Regions from separate parts of the Homo sapiens genome. Here region 1 is linked to region 2. Evidence: fine-mapped expression QTL. A gene starts in region 2. The other region holds a variant in brackets. All regions are shown on one strand. Distances are between the middles of the regions.

The links.
Region 1: its variant is fine-mapped to the expression of PXDN in whole blood (TOPMed, PIP 0.94).

What each region holds. Positions count from the first base shown.
Region 1 is chr2:1,819,001-1,827,739 of GRCh38, forward strand. The region is part of intron 21 of MYT1L (myelin transcription factor 1 like); the gene reads right to left. It overlaps LOC124905967 (a long non-coding RNA gene), which reads left to right and starts at 4,545. Exons shown (of 4, transcript XR_007086192.1): 1 at 4,545-4,629; 2 at 5,295-5,970. RefSeq lists an enhancer at 7,093-7,650. The variant C/T (reference allele first, on the strand shown) is at 5,092.
Region 2 is chr2:1,740,063-1,748,796 of GRCh38, forward strand. PXDN (peroxidasin) reads right to left here and starts at 4,453. Exons shown (of 23, transcript NM_012293.3): 1 at 4,194-4,453. The coding sequence starts at 4,393.

The DNA of each region.
Region 1 (8,739 bases), 79 kb after region 2:
CTCCCAGCTCCCAGACCAGGTCCCTCCCACTGGGGTGCATGTCCACCTGCCTCAGGAAACAAAGGTCCCTCTCAAAGCCTGAGGGATGGCAGCTACCCACACAGCTCATTCCTGCAGCCCAGGGAGTCCACCTGCCTCCTGCCCAAGGGATGGATTCTGGAGCCACTGCTATTCGGCAGTGACAATCAAAACACTGTTAGGAGAAGAAGGCCTGAGAAGAGACGTTTTGAAGAGCCACTTCCATAGGTCATCAAACGTCCTATCTCTATTCACTCATCAGCAACACTTACCTCCTGTCCTCAAGCACAGTCCTAACAGGAGGGTCATGACAATGCTAACAGCAGTGGTGAGCTGCTGTAAATGCTTTACTTATCACATGCTGGCATGCTCTTCAGACTTGGCCCACTGCTCAAACAATCTATGACCATCCCATTTTACAGAGGAGAGAATCGAGACGCAGAACAGCTAACTTGCCCCAGACCATACAGTCAGAAAAGGCAGGGCTGAGTTTATACCCAGGCCATCCAGCACCAGCCTCACCCTCCACTCCTCCTCCTGCAGCCTCTCTCCATGCACCCGTGAGTGACAGATGCTACACTCGGGCCCTGCCAGTGCAGTTCGGGCAGAGGCCCCTGTGAATACACATGCCCTACAGGGATGCACATGGTCCGATGATGTGATGCTCTGCAGCATTACAGAGGGAGGTGGAGTCCGCATGGGTATTTAAAGACAGACATTTGTTTGAAGAGGACAAGGAGCAGTGGAAGGGCCAAAGAAGCCTGAGCAGCATGTCTTCAGCTTTGAATTTAGGTCTGGGTGCAACCAAGGGGCAGAGAGGCAGGGAGCTGGAGGGATGGGTAAGAGCTTATTAGGGAAGATCTCAAGTGCCTTACAGAGGAGAATGGATTTAGCTTCTAGGCAATGACAAAGGATTGGAAGCATGTAATCCTGGCAACCACACAGTAGAGTTTGCTTGGTAGAGAGCTCACTGGCAGCAGCCTGGAGGATGCTTGCAGAGGGCAGAGGGCAGTGGGGGGGGGCCAGCGAGGAAGCTGGCAGAGGGGCCTGGGGGAGGAATGAGGGAGTACAGCCTGAGGCAGCAATGGGTTCAGAAGAGAGCACCCACTCAAGAGGAGTAAGAAGGGCTGGGGCTTGGTCACCCATTGGATGGGGCTTGCTGCTTTTGCATTCCAAATTGATAGTTTGGTTGAGTATAGAATACTGAGTGTGCAATCATTTTCCTAAGAGTTTTGAAGGCATTGTTCTATTTGATTCTTGTTTCCAGCATTGCTGTTGAGTACATCTCTTAGCTTCCTTTTCTTTTGTCTCTCACTTTGTCTCTGTTTGTCCCTCTCTTTCTCTGTATCCCCACTCCAGGTTCTCAAAATTTCATGATGATGAACCTCTGTGTGGTTGGCTATGACAGTTTTATATGTCAACATGGAGAGGACACAGCATCCAGTTGTTTAATCAAATACTTATCTAAGTGTTGCTGCGAAGGTATTTTGTAGAGTGACTAACATCTACCATCAGTTGGCTTTTTGTTGTTGTTGTTGTTGTTGTTGAGACAGGGTTTTGCTGTTGTTACCTAGGCTGGAGTTCAGTGGCATGATCATACTCACTGCAGCCTCCAACTCTTGGGCTCAAGCAATTCTCACTCCTCAGCCTCCCAAATAGCTATGACCACAGCCATGTACCACCATGCCTGGTTAATTTTTAAATTTTTTGTAGAGATGATGTCTTGCCATGTTGCCCAGGTTGGTCTTAAACTCTTGGGCTCAAGTGATCCTCCTGCGTCCTCCTCCCTAAATACTGGGATTACAGGTGTGAGCCACCACACTTGGCCTAGCTGACTTTAAGTAAGGAGATTATTCTCAATACTCTCAGTGGGCCGGACTCAAGCAGTCAAAAGACCTTAAGAATATAACTAAGGTTTCCCCGAGGAAGAAGAAATTCTCCCTGTGGAATGGAACTTCTCCTGAACAAGAGTTTCTAGGCTGCCTGTCTGCCCTACAGATTTTGGACTTGTGGAGCCGGTCCCAGATGGTGTCAGCCAGTTCCTTGTGATGAACCCGTCCATATATAAATCCTACTGGTCCTGCTTCTCAGGTAGAGCCCCGGACGACATAGAACCATTTCATGATTGCGTGGCTACTCAACGAGGCCTTTATATCTGAAAACTCAAGATCTCTGCCATGGGGATTTTCCTTGTTTTCTTTCTTTGGGAATTTTCTTTCTTCCATTTGCTCTACTCTCGCTACTTCTTCAGAAACTCCTATTAGTTGATTACTAACTCTCCTGAATTCTTTATTTTTTTTTAACAAAATCTTTTATCTTCTTTTCTCATCTCTTTATAATTTATGGGACATTACCTCAATTTTACATTTTAACTTTCAAAGTAAACTTTTTATTTATTTTTTAAAATAGATATTCGTGTTCTCTGAATGTTTCTTGGGTTATGAATACAATATATTTTAATGTTCTTTCTGTTCTTTTCTGTCTGATGACAAATTATAGGTTTTTAAAAAGATTGCTCCTCTTTCCAGAAATGTTTCTGCTTCCTCTGAGCTTCTTTTGCCCCCTGGTAAGGCTGGTTTGTTTGCTTGGTTTCTGCCATGTTGTTTACTGCTTGCCTTCAGTGGCCGGAGTCCTTGGCTGTTCACGCATACATCCCAGACATTGGTGCCTGGAGGCCCTTTATCTTGAATCTGTTGGTTCTAGAGAAGAGGCCCCTGCTCTGTCTGGAGTGGCGGGGAGTGGAGAAGGCAGAGGAGCAGGAGGAGCCGCTGGATTCCCGGAGCCACACGGGACCAAGGCCTTGGGGCCTGTCCATCTCACTTGACGTTCCCATCTTCAGTACAACGGCTCATCCTGTTTCCAGCTCTTCCTAGCACTAGCTCCAGAGCTTCTGTTCTAGCTTATCCTTCTGCCGGGGAGAAGGAGGCCTGTGGCAGGGCATCCGGGAGTCGAACCCCTCTTAGACAATTCAACTACTCCTCTGTTTTCCGACCAACTCTGAATCCCCACTCTAGGTCCCAGCCTCTTTTCTATGGAGGTTCTGCATGCTCTTCACTCCTCTTTTTCTGGGTTCTTTCTTCACTCTTTCTCTCCACCCCCATCCTCTCCCTCCCCAACAGCTCCTCTGCAGGGAGCTGAGGCCTGAGCCATGTGTGCTTGGGCTGGGCGGCTCCCAGTGCTTTGTGGATGGGATGGTCTGCACTTCCCTTCCTTATTTAGTTATTTAGTTGCATTATATTTGTGGGTTTATAAGAGGAGAGTGGGTCATTTTAGTAGTGTTTTAAGATTTAGTGGAGATATATGTGATTTCAGTCTGCAGAGCTTGGCTAGGATTCCCAATAGAGATGCCTAATAAACCCAGTATTGAGGAACACACGTGCACCTTTCTGCAAGGTGTCTGCCATCTTTGTGTGGGTTGGGTCTGTTTCCTGGAGAGCGCAGGGTGTGTCCACTGTCAGCCCCTCTTCCCCAGGGATGCTCCTGCGTGCTCAGCAGGCACTTGGCTGCCACAGGATGGCGAGGGCTGGCCCTGGGACCACATGGATCTGAGGGTGGAGGCAGAAGTGTGGCCTACAGCCTGTGTCCTTCGAGAGGGTCCCCTTCCTTCCTCCAGGGACAGGATGGCTGTTGTGGTAGCAAACTCACCCTGAGGTGGTCTCCGAGTGTCAGGGGCTGAGGTGCAGGACCCGGATATCTGGGTCCCTGGCAGTCAGAAGCCACCGCCTCATGGCTGCTGCTGTGTCCACGGTGAAACCCTCCTCTCCTGTGAAGGAGCCACTGCCTCACCAGGGCTGCTGTGTCCACAGTGAAACCCTCCTCTCCTGGAGGGTTTCTCTTTCTCAGGAGCAGCTGCTTGCTGCTGAGGACTGAGTGTAATCCTAGCAGAAGGGAAATGTTTAGTTTTGTTTCTCCTTTTGCTTGCCTCTCAGGAGCCTCGGTTGTTAACGTTATCACTGCTGTGGCTTGGCTGTGTCTCCTGAAGGGATATGTTGATGGCCTGGCCCCTACACCTGTGAAAGGGACCTTATTGCACCTCGTTTTCTTTTTAACATGTGAACCATAACTCTTCTGCAAATGTGAGCTTTTGCCCTAAGCTCCTCAAATGGCATCGACACGTGGGAGGAAAAGATCCTCAATGAGGAGACACCTGTCCTGCTGCACAGCCCTGTGGCAGCTTGGCCTCCCCAGGCAGACCCAGCAGGGGCACCCAGCTGGTGGTGCTGGCTGTTATAGTCGTGGTGGTTGTGGTAGTGAGGGCTGTTGCTGCTGTTGTCAGAGCTGTGGCTGTGAGGCTGTTGTTGCTGTGGTTGTGGCTGCAACCTTCATTGTCATAGATATAGCTGTGGCAGCTGTAGTTGTAGCCTTCTCTCCACTTGGGGCACTCAGGTCCACCCTATCTGGCTCAGGGCTTCGGCTCCGGGGTCCTGGAGGAGGGAGCAGGCAGTGGGCTGGAGTGGGTGTGGTTGACGCTGGAGGGCAGCCTCTGAGCAGCTCCCCCAGGACGGAAGCGAAGGCTGCAGGCGGGGCTTGGGTCAGGCTCCTGGGAGAAGCAGTGACGAGGCTGGGTGCCTGCAGGAAGACCCTCAGCTGGCTGCATGTTCAGCCCTGCAGGTGGGTCGTGCTCCTGGGAGGAGCAGCGATGAGGCTGAGTGCCTGTAGGAAGACCCGTGGCTGGCCGCATGTTCAGCCCTGCAGGTGGGTCAGGCTCCTGGCACGAGCAGCGATGAGGCTGGGTCCCTGTAGGAAGATCCGTGGCTGGAGGCGTGTTCAGCCCTGCACTGCCAGTGGTGGCGGCCCTCGTCCCGTGTGGTCAAATTTACATTTATATTTACTGAAATCTAACAATTTTTAAAAGTTCTCTGTCACAGGAGCCAAACTTCAAGAGCTGAGTAGTCTCAGGTGTCCAGTGACCATTACGTGGCACAGTGTTGGCCTGGGCCTCGCCGTCCCTGGCACGACCCATGGGATGAGGCCGCGCCTCCCCCCCCAGCGGGGCCGCCGGGCAGAGGTGATGTGGGATGCTCAGTGACTTTTTAGGGAACGTGCCAAGCCCTCTCCATGGGGGTTGGGGAA[C/T]GTTTTTAGTTTGGATTCTAAACAGAGAGTGATTCTTGCTATGGAACAAATTTAAATAATAGCTAATAAAGCAGACTAGACTTACTAAACATATTCCTATGCTTAGGAGCCTGCATTAAGCATTTTAGATACATGACCCCAACCAATTCTTCCAACAATCTGTAATGTAGATTCAGTTTGGTATTTTCTCCACGTCTCTCTAGGGTTAGGTAATTTTGTGCCCAGCAGAGCAGGGCGGTGCTCTGTCCTCTGGGAAATACTGCCTTCCTGGAATGTTCCCTCCAACCCAGAGTGCTGAGAAGGCTGGCAGGATAGAGGCCAGAACATGTCTGACGTCAGCGCCAGCCTGGACGGAGAGCTCGGATCCCAGAGAAGGCTGAGCACAGGGAGGAGAGGGGCATGGGCCTCTGCATTTGAGCTGCTCTCGTCCTGAAGTTTGTGCCCTGGGCCCTGTGAGAACTCAGGGGCCAGCCTGTGACACCCCGGCCAGGCCATGCGAGGGTGGCGCCGGGACGCCGCCCTCTGCGGCTCCTTTGGGGAGCACTGACCAGCACTCAGGGATGGATCCGTGCAGCGAGTTGTCGAGAGGAGAGAGTGGAGGAGGACTCCGCAGTATCCCGGCTGATGCATATTGAGTCATCCAGAGGAGAGAGAGGGGGAGGACTCCGCAGTATCCCGGCTGATGCATAATTTGTTCTTCTTATGCATTTTACCACCATTTTGGCTAGCATTTGGTGCTTCAAGGAACAGCTGTTAGAAGCGAAAATCAGAGAAAAAGGCATTTGCGTTTCAAAGGCTTCGCTTTGTGGATGACACATCCCAGAGATAGGAGGAACTCCTGGCAGCAGCCATAGATTTGGAAGGATGCATCCCCATCAGGTAGCGGTGGAGGAATCTCCAGGGAGGAGACAGAGAAGGGAGAGGACAGGAGGGAGAGGAGTAAGGGGTTTGGATGCCTGTGGGTCCTCAGAGAGTGGCCTGAGAGCCAGACTTTCTCCCTTTCCCCTGAGAGCAACATGGAGCTGGGGAAAGAGACCTCAGACACGCCACTCCCCTGCCTTCCTGATGGCGACAGACACAGAGAGGCCTCAGGGCTGGGAGCCGGGAAGGTGGAGGAGCTGCCCATGAGGCTGGTGCTTTGGCAGGGAAAGGGGCCCCCCAGGAGCTGCCACCTGCCCCAAAGGTGCACCTGGGATGAAGATGGGGGGGAGGCACCACAGCGACCTAGTTATGGCGAGCAAGCTCTCACCATACAGTAGAGGAGGAGACAGAAATTAGTTCAGTTACAGAAAACAGATACATTGGTAGAATTTACATGTTATAACATAATTCCATTAAAAAGTTGGCATACTCCTGAAAACCTACTTACTCTTCCCTTAAGAATCAAGTAATATTATGTTTATTAGAAATTATTTGGAGAAATCAAAAGATTGGAATTACAGTCTTAGCTTCACACTAATTATGAGAACGTCAAAGTTTTTTGTTTGTTTAATTGAGATTAATTCACATATGGGAACCCGCTTTTAAAAGATCAGGTTCCCCATCTCTTTATTGGATATAAGAATGATCCTATTTGTTTGTACTGTTAATTTTTTGTTTGTATATTGGTTTTCCCTATAAAATTATAACAGGCTAAGTTTCTTGGGACAGAGACTGTCTTGAAATTTTTATTTCTCTGAAGATCCTAGCGCAGTGGCTGGATAGTCCCCTTCCAGTGGGCAGAATGCTAAGGTGGCCCCAAAGTCTCCCCGTGTGCACCTGCCGTGCGTGGGCCTCTGTCCTTGAGTGTGGATGGTCCTGTGAACACAGTATAGTCATTGCCCCCATGATGGGGTGACATCCTATGAGACCCCAGCCCAGCTGCCAAGCAGTGAGGCCACCGGCTGTGTGGCCAGGACCTGGGGGCCTCATCCGCGGAGGACGACTCTGCCCAACGTCCAGCAGGACAGTCGGGCCTGACAGCTGCAAGCTCAGGAGCTGAGTTCTGCCAGGAACCCGCATGAGCTGTGAGTTGGACTGTGAGCTCCAGGGGGGACGCCACCTGCAGAGGACCCCCTTAGGCCAGCCTGGGCTTCCACCATGGGAAAACTGAGCTAATGACAGGGCCTGGGTTTAAGCTGCTTTGTTTGTGCCACTTTGGAGAACAAACTAGAAGACCGGCACGGTGCTCGGGCATGGGACACAGTTCGGCTTCCTGCGCTGGCGCAGAGGGCCCTGCTGAAGCTCAGTGCTTTCATTCAGCATCTGCTGAATGCTTGCCAGGTCCTGGGGAGGGCTGGGGGGCGGGCGAATGTGGGAGTGCTTCAGGAGGGAATCTTCCTGCAAAAACAAAGCAGGGTCGCGCTCCACCCTGGTCAGCGCTGGGCCAGAACACTGGGTTGTTTCAGGCAGAGGAGGTTGACCAGATGTCACCTCTCCCTGCTGCTATTCACAGGGCCCTTTGGGATTCACAGTTCGAGACAGATGTTGAATCTGACTCTTTCCCTCCCAATTGCTTCCCGTCAAACACTAAAAGATGGAGATTAAAGGAAAAGAAGCAAAGGGTCTGAGGTGCTTTTAGGACGCAGCACCGGGTACCGGGTCAGTGCAGGGCCGGCGTCGGGGAAAGCGGAGGGCTCCCCTTGGAGGGTGTCTGGGCCTGAGGCAGAGCAGGGAGCTGACTCCAAAGGTCAGAGAAGTCAAGTCCCTGAAGGCTTCCTTGTAAAGTGGTTCAGTAAGGCCAGTTTTCCACAGGAGTGGCGTGGGGGCAGGGGGAGCATGGGGTGGGGGTCGGGAATGTAATTCTCAGAAGTGAGGTTCCTCATGAGAGCAGGTGGTGGGGTGGGGTGGGGCTCACTGACTGAGTCCTGCTTTCTCCAGAGCAGATGCAGGAGGAGGCGCATCCTGGCGAGGATCTCACTTTAGCAATCCCCACCCCTGCTGGTGCCCCAGACCCCTCCCCATCCTGCAGGGCTCTGGATGGGTCAACCTGCCTGGCCTCCAGGACTAGAGATCACGGCCTGGACACAGCGCAGCAACATTTCCTCTCTTTTCCCTGAGGTGGTGACCTGGCCAGATGACTGAAGGGCTGATAGTGAGGGGCTGCCAGCCCAGAATGGGGGCATGGGGCTTCGTAGGAGCTGGGGCACGGCAGGGTTCAGCCCTGGATGGAAATGCTCTCTGTCTCCCTCCCTTGTGCTGCATTTACTCCTGGGCTGGGGCCACCCTCCCTTCCACCTCCTGCAGATCACAGAGGGACCCAGAGCTCAGGAGAACTTTCTTCCTGTGTTATAAAACAAGGTATGCCATTGAAACATGCCTGGGTCAAACAGAAAGCTCCCACCGGGCCTGGAGGAGCCCCTGGCAATGTGGTCCTCATTCCCGCCACCCTCTGCCTAGAAGGGGATCTCAGAGAGTTGAGGGGACCTCTCTGGTTGGGAAAAGGGGAGCATCCAGGGAGCGCCAGGAGAGTCCTGGAGGAACATTCTGAGGTGACACGGCCCCAGGGCTCTGTCTACGGCAGGGATCAGCATTGCTGACACACAAAATATTTATTCCCTGATGATGTGGAATTTGGAATCATCATCAGAGACTTCAGTGCAGAGCAACTGGAACCTCCTGAGTGTGCCCTGTCTATATATCTGGTCTCTGGACAGGGTGGCCAGTCCT
Region 2 (8,734 bases):
GCCCAAAGGAGGAGAGGCCTGGCGTCCCGGGACCGCGGGTACTCCCAGAAGACGCAGTCAGATGTGAGGGAACTTCCCGGGAGCAGGAGGGTGCAGAGGAGGAGGAGGGCATGGGAAGTGCTGAGGGTGGACAGCCAGGGAGTCCCCGGCAGGCGGGCCCCTCTGCAGCACCAGCCAGCCGGCTCCCTGAGTGCCAGGCAACAAACACCCTGTGACCTCTATCTGCGTGTGAGGAGGAGAGGTCCTCTCCGAAAGGCAGCCAGTTCTCCAAGGGAGGTCAGGGAAGCTCCAAGGATGAACCTCGGGACCCATGTGACTCACTCAGGCGACGCAGTCTCCTAGACACAGGAAGTCAGTTAAAAGGCCCAAACACCCACTCCCACCTATGGACTATGAGCCCATAGACTCCCAGAGCCCCCAGAGGGCCTGGGGGGCCTGCAGGCGGGAGGAGACCCACAGAGCAGCAACACTGGAACCTTCTGCTCATGTGAACACAGGCCGGGAGGTGGGCTGGTCCACTCAGTCCAGACCACCAAGAGTGCAGGGTCCCAAGCACTGTGCGCCCTTTCCCCATACCCCGTCCCACCAGGACTGCACACACCTGGGGTCATCTTACCACTCCCAGGAAGCCCCCTGACTCTCTGGGGGCCCCACTGGACTGGGGATTCCATGAGGGCAAGATTCCGGTCTCGTTTTCTGTGGGTGGCCCAACACCCAGCACACGGCGTGGGCCTAACACCCAGCAGATGGTGAGAAAAACTGAGAATGAGGAGCAGCTGTCTGGAGATTCTGCAGGAGAGGAGGCCCCGCCCTGGCTGCCATGCGCCTGCCTGTGGTTTCTCTGCAATGCGACCTCCCTGAGCCCACCCCAAGCTCCACATGCCCAGACCCCTCCAATGTCAGGGTTTCTGTCACAGAACTGCAGTTTGGGACAACTCATGGCTTTGCAGCGGCCTGGACTGTGGTGAGGATGTTAGTTTTGATGAATCCATGACCATAGCCTCAACCGTGGCGGCTCCAGGGAAGAGAGGAAGGCAGGACAGGAGGAGGGCGTGGAGGGCCTAGCTCCAGTGTGTCCAGCCAGCACCCTAGCGGCGTGACCGTGAAGAAGAATGTTTCAAATGTGACCTCCCCAAAAAGCCTGGGGTTGAGAGGAGGAAAGGAAGGGGCGTACAACGGCATACTTTATCTTTAATACTAGCTTTGAACTACCATTGTGATGAACTTCTATTGTGTTGGGTACAGAATGATTCTGTATTCAAAAACCAACCATTTCTACACAGCTGAACTAAGTAAGGCCTCCAGAGGGGAGGCGCTCTGCAGGAGACCCAACAGCAAGGCCAAACCGCCGACCGAGCAGCACAGGGCGCGGGCTCCTGCCATTCCAGAGCTCCCTTCACACTTGCAGCTGAGGGAGCTCAAAGGTCGATCCAAACTGAGTCATGGATGGGCTTATTCCACTGTTTTCCAAAGCCCCCAAGCCACAAATCAAACAACCCAGTATCAGACCCGCTTAAACACACTCCTGGAGCATTTGAGGGGAAGGAGCAATAAGATGTTTTCCAATGGCTCTGATTTAATCTTTTGGGGGACTGGGATGGAGGTGAGTCTCTAAAAGCAAAGGGACGGTGTGATGGTTGGATGAGCCAACTAACTTTGGGGCAGGTTTTTTTTTAAATTTTCATATATAGTATATTCCCAATTTCTACCAAAAAATTGTAATAGAAAATAATCACATATACATGAGAGCACAGTCCTGGGAGAAAGCCGAAAGTGGACATGAAATGTTGCTTCACGTGTAGCATGTATCATGTAGAACTGTGTCATCTCAAGCAACAGCCTACCAGACCATGCCCCCAGAGACCCCTCAACAGGATATCCCCGCAGAATAGGTCTCCCTCTTCCCTCAGTCCCTGCCTCCCCAGGCTGCACTCACTAGCGCTCGCTCATGACACCTGTCCACTGTGCCTAGGTCCGCACAGCTACACCCTCACGTTCTCCCAGGAGACACGGGACTTGCTAAAAATCACGCGGCTGCAATGCATCCAGCCAGGACTCCATTCTGGCCACCAGCGCTACGCTCCTCCTCTTGGCCACAGGAATAGCGTCAGGAGCTGCGCTTCTCTCCCAGAGCTTCTGTTTCCACCGCCAGAAAATGGGTATGTTCATTTCTCCAGTAAAGTGTTTAGTTCTATAAGGGATTCGATCAACTTAACAGCTACCAGTCTACCTGCCTCACAGAATCAACGTGACTCAACAGCGACATTTCGAAGTATCACTGAAGACTGCAAAAACCCCTGAAAGTTTAAGATAGAAATGGATGCAAATGTACCCTATGAGGAAGTGTTGTGCGAGTGGACGATGATGTCACCCGTCTACTCTCAGCTCCTTTTTCAAATTCGGTGAGGCGTTTGTGGACGAGCACACCATGCAAAGCGGAGCAGAGGACCCCATGTGTGTCCTACGACACTTATTTTAACATGTTATTTTCAACAAGCAATTAATATTCCGGGGCAAAACATACCGCAAGCTTTATGAAACTGACCAGATGGGAAAAATCTTTGAGGTGCCATTTTTCCACTGGCTCAGCAAGAATTACATTATCCAGACCCAGGGAAACCTCACCCGGCTCCATTCTAAAAGTCCACTGCTGTTGAGTGAGATGCCCCCGAGTCGTCCGGCCTGGGCTGACCATTCACGGGCTCTGGAAAGAAAGCCTTGGTCTCTCTGCGGAGGAGGAGAGGAACTCGGGCCCCCGCCCCGCCCCAGGGCCTCCAGGAAGCAGCCTGCAAACTCGGCGACCCCTGGGAGCCGTGGTCTGTCCCAGCACTTTGTTTCGGAGGTAGGCGCACTGGCCGCCCACTTCCTGAATTGTTCACTCAATTTTTTTACAACTTTTGCAGACTCTTTGCTGGTGCCAAAAAGTCCTCTGGCTCAGCTAAGAAACGTGAAAACTATTTTTGGCATGCAGAAAAGTCGCTACAGGACTAAATTAGAGTCGGCGCCTGAAACGCAGCCCGCGTTCACAGATCCCGAAAATGTTGAATCCGACTCGCTTCAGAACACAGGAGGCCTGCAGCGAACTCTGGCGGCATCTCGGTACCTGGAGCCGCGGGGCGGAGGGATGGGGATTCCTGCTGTGGAGACCGTGACGCGGGACGGCCCGCAGGACAGGGTGTCAACCCCAACGCAACGCATCCGGTTAAACGTATAGCGCAACTGCGAACACGCTCGCGTGGATTAGAAGCGAAAGAAGAGAAATGCCCGAGGCAGAAACCCGCTCTGAGTCCCGGCTCCATCTAGACCCGGGCTGCCCCGAGACTACCGCGCGGCCCCTCTCGGGAACCCCGGCCGCCCGGCTCGCTCCGGGCGCAGGAAAAGCCCCTGAGAAGCGCGGGGCCCCCAGGACACCCCAGGAGAGGACGCTCCGGGCAGATGCGGGGGCACTGGGAGCGGGGGCGCCGCGGCTGCGGGAACTGAGGCTCCTCTGGGGAGGCTTCCCCGGCGCGGGGGGATGGGGTGGGCACTGCGCTCCAAGGGGCGGGGGAGGGGGAGAGGGCGGAGGCTGGGGGAGGAGAAGGAAGGGGGGGAGGAGGAGGGGAAGGGAGGAGGAGGAGGAAGGGGAGGAGGAGGAGGAAGGGGAGGAGGAGGAGGAAGGGGAGGAGGAAGAGGAGCGGAGGAGGGGAGCGAACAGGACGAGGAACGGGGCGGAGGGGGCTGGGAGGACGGAGGGGGCTGCGCCGCGCTCGGGGAGCGGAGGGGGACCGAGGGGTCCTGAGCGGGGGAAAGGTGAGCGGAGGAGGGGCCGCGAACCAGGGGGAAGCGGGAGGCCGGCGGAGCATGAGAGGGGGCGGCGGGAGGCGAGCGGGGGGAGCCCCGGAGGCTCCAACAACTTCCCAGTCCTGCGGGGATTCCGAGTTCCGAACAAAGGCGGCTACGAAGGCCGCGCGCACAGCGCTCTGTTCCGCCCCTCGGCGTCTCCCGCAGGGCGAACAAAGGCCCAGCGGGTCCCCGCGCCCAGGTCCCCCCACGTCCCCCTTCGGAGGTTCCCTTCTGCGTCCCAAGTCCCCAGGCCCCCCGCGCGCCCGATGCCCCCTCCACCCTCCGCGCCCCCCACCTCCGATCACCCCTGCGCTCCCGGATCTCCACGAAGCCCCGGACCCCGCGCCCCCGGCGTCCCCCGCGGCACTCACAGGATGGAGGTCTGCGGCGCCACGGCGGGCACGGCCTCCAGCAGCAGATGCATGCAGCGCACGGTGGTGCGGAAGCACAGGCAGCGGCTCGGACACCCTGCGCCCGGCTTCTGGGCCACCACGGCCAGCGTCCCCCAGGCGCAGAACAGCACGAGCGCCAACAGGCAGCGGCGCCCGGGGCCCCTGGAGCGCTTGGCCATGGCCGACGGCGCGGACGGACGCTCGGACGCACGGAGCCACCACGGCCGGCTCCCGACTGCGCCCGCCCGGCCGCGGCCCACGTCCCAGCTGTGCGCGGGGGGCGGGGGGCGCCAGCTGTGCACATGCGCGAGGCTCCTCCCGGCCCCTCTGAATCCCCGAGGGCGGGGCGGGGCGAGAACCCGGGGCCCCAGCGTCCGGCCTGAGCGCCCTCATCCCGGTGGGGCGGCCCGCATGGCCAAGGCGAGCGCTCGGGGGCGCGGAGGAGAGCATTGGCACCCCTGATTCTGCGCTCGAGACTCGGGGCTCGGGACCCTGGGGCCTACGCGAAGCTTCTCCACTTCTCTTACCCGTGGTTTCTGCCTGCGCTCACTACGGGTTTTTTAGTTGGCGCCTTAATGTTTGTAACACTTTTAGAGCGCTTGCTCTGATCCGGGCACGATTCCAGGCGCGCAGGCGCGCTCCTCTCTTTCTCCTTCTCCCTACCCGCAACCACGTAGGAAATTATTTAACGTTCCAAAAAAGCCCCTCATTCCTTTTGAGGAAACTGAGGCCCAAGCCCCAAAGCGCACAGCAAGGGAGTCTGCGGGAAGATTAGACCCAGGCGGTCCGGCTCCCCGGGGCCTGTCAGCCACCTGCTCTCTGCCGGCCGCCTGGCTCAGCACAGTTGGGAAAATGAAAGGTCCTGTGTGGAGTCCTTGGCGCGGCGCAATGCAGCCCCCGGGATTCTCGCGGCCTTCAGTGCGTGCCCTCCTGGGACAGACCTAGGAGGAGACCCAGGGAACCCCCCCCCCCCACGTCGGGTGTGTCTAGAGACAGCAGAAGACTTTGGAAAGGAGGGAAGACACTGCGTGAGATACGCACAAAGGTGGCGTTCTCACATAGTTCATACATTCTCTCCAATCATCTCACAAGGACCCAGTCTGAATTTCACAGACAAGGAAGGTGAGGCCAAGTTGCTGAACCCAGGCCACAGGGTGACGGTGCCAGATTCAGAGGCACAGCATGGGCGTGTTCCCGTCGCAAACCCCAAGTCTCAGCTGTGTCCCCGTGCTGGTGTTCTAGCCTGAGCTGCGTTTGAAAGCAGCCTGGAATGGGATTGGTGGGTAATAGGCTAGTTTCCTGTTGCTATGTTAAAACACAAAAGCAACTACCACGAGACATAGCCCGGAGGTCACAGGTGCATTGCTGACCACAGGGCACCATCTAAGGACTGGACCCCCGAGGCTGCTGGCAGGGGGTTCCAGTTCCTTGCCGTGTGGGTCTCCATGGCCTGCACACTGGACATGGCCTGATGCCTCCCAGAGCAGGTATTAGAAGAAAGAGGAAGAGAATGAGAGTACAACACAGAAGCCAGGGTAAAACCTAACCCAGCCTTGGAACTGGCCCCGCATCACACCTGCGGGGTGCATCCTCAGAGGTCGGTGGCTCCCGCTGACATTCCAGATGCCATCTTTCCTGCAGGATTTTATCCACCCTCTACAGCGGATGCAGCTCACACTCCGGATTCCATTTCTCCTGCAGGATCCTATTCACACACTCCGGTGGGCCCAGCTCACACTGCAGACAACATCTCTCCTGCAGGATACTATCCACACACAGAAGTGGGTCCAGCTCACACTGCAGACATCTCTCCTGCAAGATCCTATTCACACATTCCAGTGACTCCAGTTCACACTGTAGATGCCAAAACTTATGCAGGATTCTATGCACACACACTAGTGGTGCATTTCACACTCCGGATGCCGTATCTTCTGCAGAATCCTGTCCACACATTTCAGTGGGTCCAGTTCACGCTCTACATGTGCTCTCTCCTGCGGGCTCCTATCCACACACTCCGGAGGTGCCATTCACACTCTAGATGCCATCTCTCCTGCAGGACGATGTCCACACCCTCCAGTGGGTCCAGTTCACACTCTAGAGGACATCACTTTTGCAGGATCCTCTCTACACATTCCACCGGTGCCATTCACACCACAGATGCTGTCTCTTTGCAGAGTCCTATCCACATGCCCCAGGGCTGCAGCTCACACTGCAGACACCATCACCCCTGCAGTATCCTATCCACACACCTCAGTGGGTCCCATTCACACTCCAGAGGCTATCACTTTTGCAGGATCCTATACACACACTTTAATGGGGCCAGCTCACAGTCCAGAAGCCGTTACTCCAGCATGATTCTAGCTACACACCCCAGTGGCCCAGTTTACACTGCAGATGCCTTGTCTTCTGCAGGATCCTCTCCAGGCACAACAGTGGGTCCAGTTCACACTCCAGTTGCCATCTCTCCTGCAGGACCCTACCCATACACTCAAGTGGGTCCAGTTCACACTCCAAATGCCATCCACCTGCAGCATCCCAACCTCTCACTCAAGTGGGTGCAGTTCACACTCCAGTTGCCATCTCTCCTGCAGGACCCTACCCACACACTACAGTGCTCCACTTCACACAGCAGACATCATCACTGCTGAAGGCTGCTGTCCACACAGTCCTGTGGATGCAGTGCTCACTCCACATGCCATCACTCTTGCAGGATCCTACCCACACACTCGAGGCAGTCCAGATCACACTGCAGATGTCATCACTCCTGCAAGATGCTATCCATACACTCCAGTGGGTTCGGTTCACACTGCAGATGCCATCTCTCCTCAAAGATCCTGTCTACACATAGCAGTGGTTGAGTTTGGGTCCCACCCAAAGATTCCAGTGGGTCCGCTTCCCACTGCACACGCCATCTCACCTGCAGGATTCTCTCCATACACTCCACTCAGTCCAGTTTACATTCTACATGTCGTCTCTCCTGCAAGATTCTATCCACACACTCGAGTAGGTCCAGCTGAAACTCCATATGCCATCGCCCCTGCGGGATCCTGCGCACACTCTCCAGTGGGTTCAGATTAGACTCCGGGTGCCATCGCCCCTGCGGGATCCTGCGCACACATTCGAGTGGGTTTAGTTCAGATTCCGATGCCATCACCCCTGCAGGGTCCTGTCCACGCACTCCAGAGGATTCATTTCAGACTCCGGGTGCCATCGCCCCTGCGGGATCCTGTGCACACACTCCAGTGGGTTCAGATTAGACTCCGGGTGCCATCACCCCTGCAGGATCCTGTGCACACACTCCAGTGAGTTCAGCCATCACCCCGCAGGATCCTGTGCACACACGCCAGTGGGTTCAGCCATCACCCCGCAGGATCCTGTGCACACACACCAGTGGGTCCAGATGCAGATGCCATCACTCCTCCTGGATCCTCTCCACACCCTCCTGTTGTTCCAGCTCACACTGGACGCCATCTCTCCTGCTGGATTCCATCCACAGATGCTCTTGCGTCCAGCACATGCCACAGCAGAGCATCAACTGGGAGCGTAAGGAACATGAGACAGAACCACTGGGGACCATCTTAGAGGCTGCCTACCACGTGTCACTCTTGAGTTTGTGTAGAACAGGGATGCTTGTGAGAATGCTTCTTCTGTATTTCCATAATGGCAGAATGCTGGGTGGGAGCTGCAAACATTATATTCAGCAGAGGAGGAGACAGAGTCCTAGGCAGACTTCAGTACAGTCCTGCTGTTAAGTACCTGGAGCTAGAGCAGACCCCGCAGGTTACAGATGTGGATGGACCTCAGTAAGGCTGCCCTCACTTTAATACTACCTGTGTGTCCAGTGGTCCCCAGGCCATCCACACTTCTGACTGGTTACAGATTCATAGGTTTCTGAGACCCCCTCCAGCTCCATCTCCTGCTGGAACCACCCACACAACAGATGAAAGTGCTGTGGTTACAAATACAGCTGTATTATAATTGATACCAATCTGAACCTCCAAATGAAATACATCAGGTGAGGTCAGGGAGGGTCCCAAATGCAGAGCCTCTGTGCCTGGCCTGTGGGATCAGGGCCCATCACCACCCGGCACAGGGACATGATCACCAACAGGGAAGCTCTACTGAGCTTTGGTGTCCAGAGTTTTCACCAGGGTTTTATGGCTCAAGCAGGACTGATGACACACTGTCCATGGGGTTGAACTCTCCAGGGAGGTCAGGCTGACAGCACAAGGCCCAAACACTTCACCCTACAATCGCATGGTCAGTCCTAGTGATCAGCCTCCATCCTGTGTTCCTTCATCAGCGTCAGCTCAGACATGGCTGGGAGCTCATCATGAATACACACGCTCCTGTCCCTGGGGAAATTCCAAGGGCTTTGGAAGCTCTGTCCCGGGAACCTGAGGAAAAGACCCAATTCCTTCTCAAACACACAAGCTTTACATGGATACTCGTGTTTAGGAAAGTGGCACCCGCTGCTGTGTCTGCCGTTTTAAGCAAGCACCCCGCTCACAAGGCGTAAT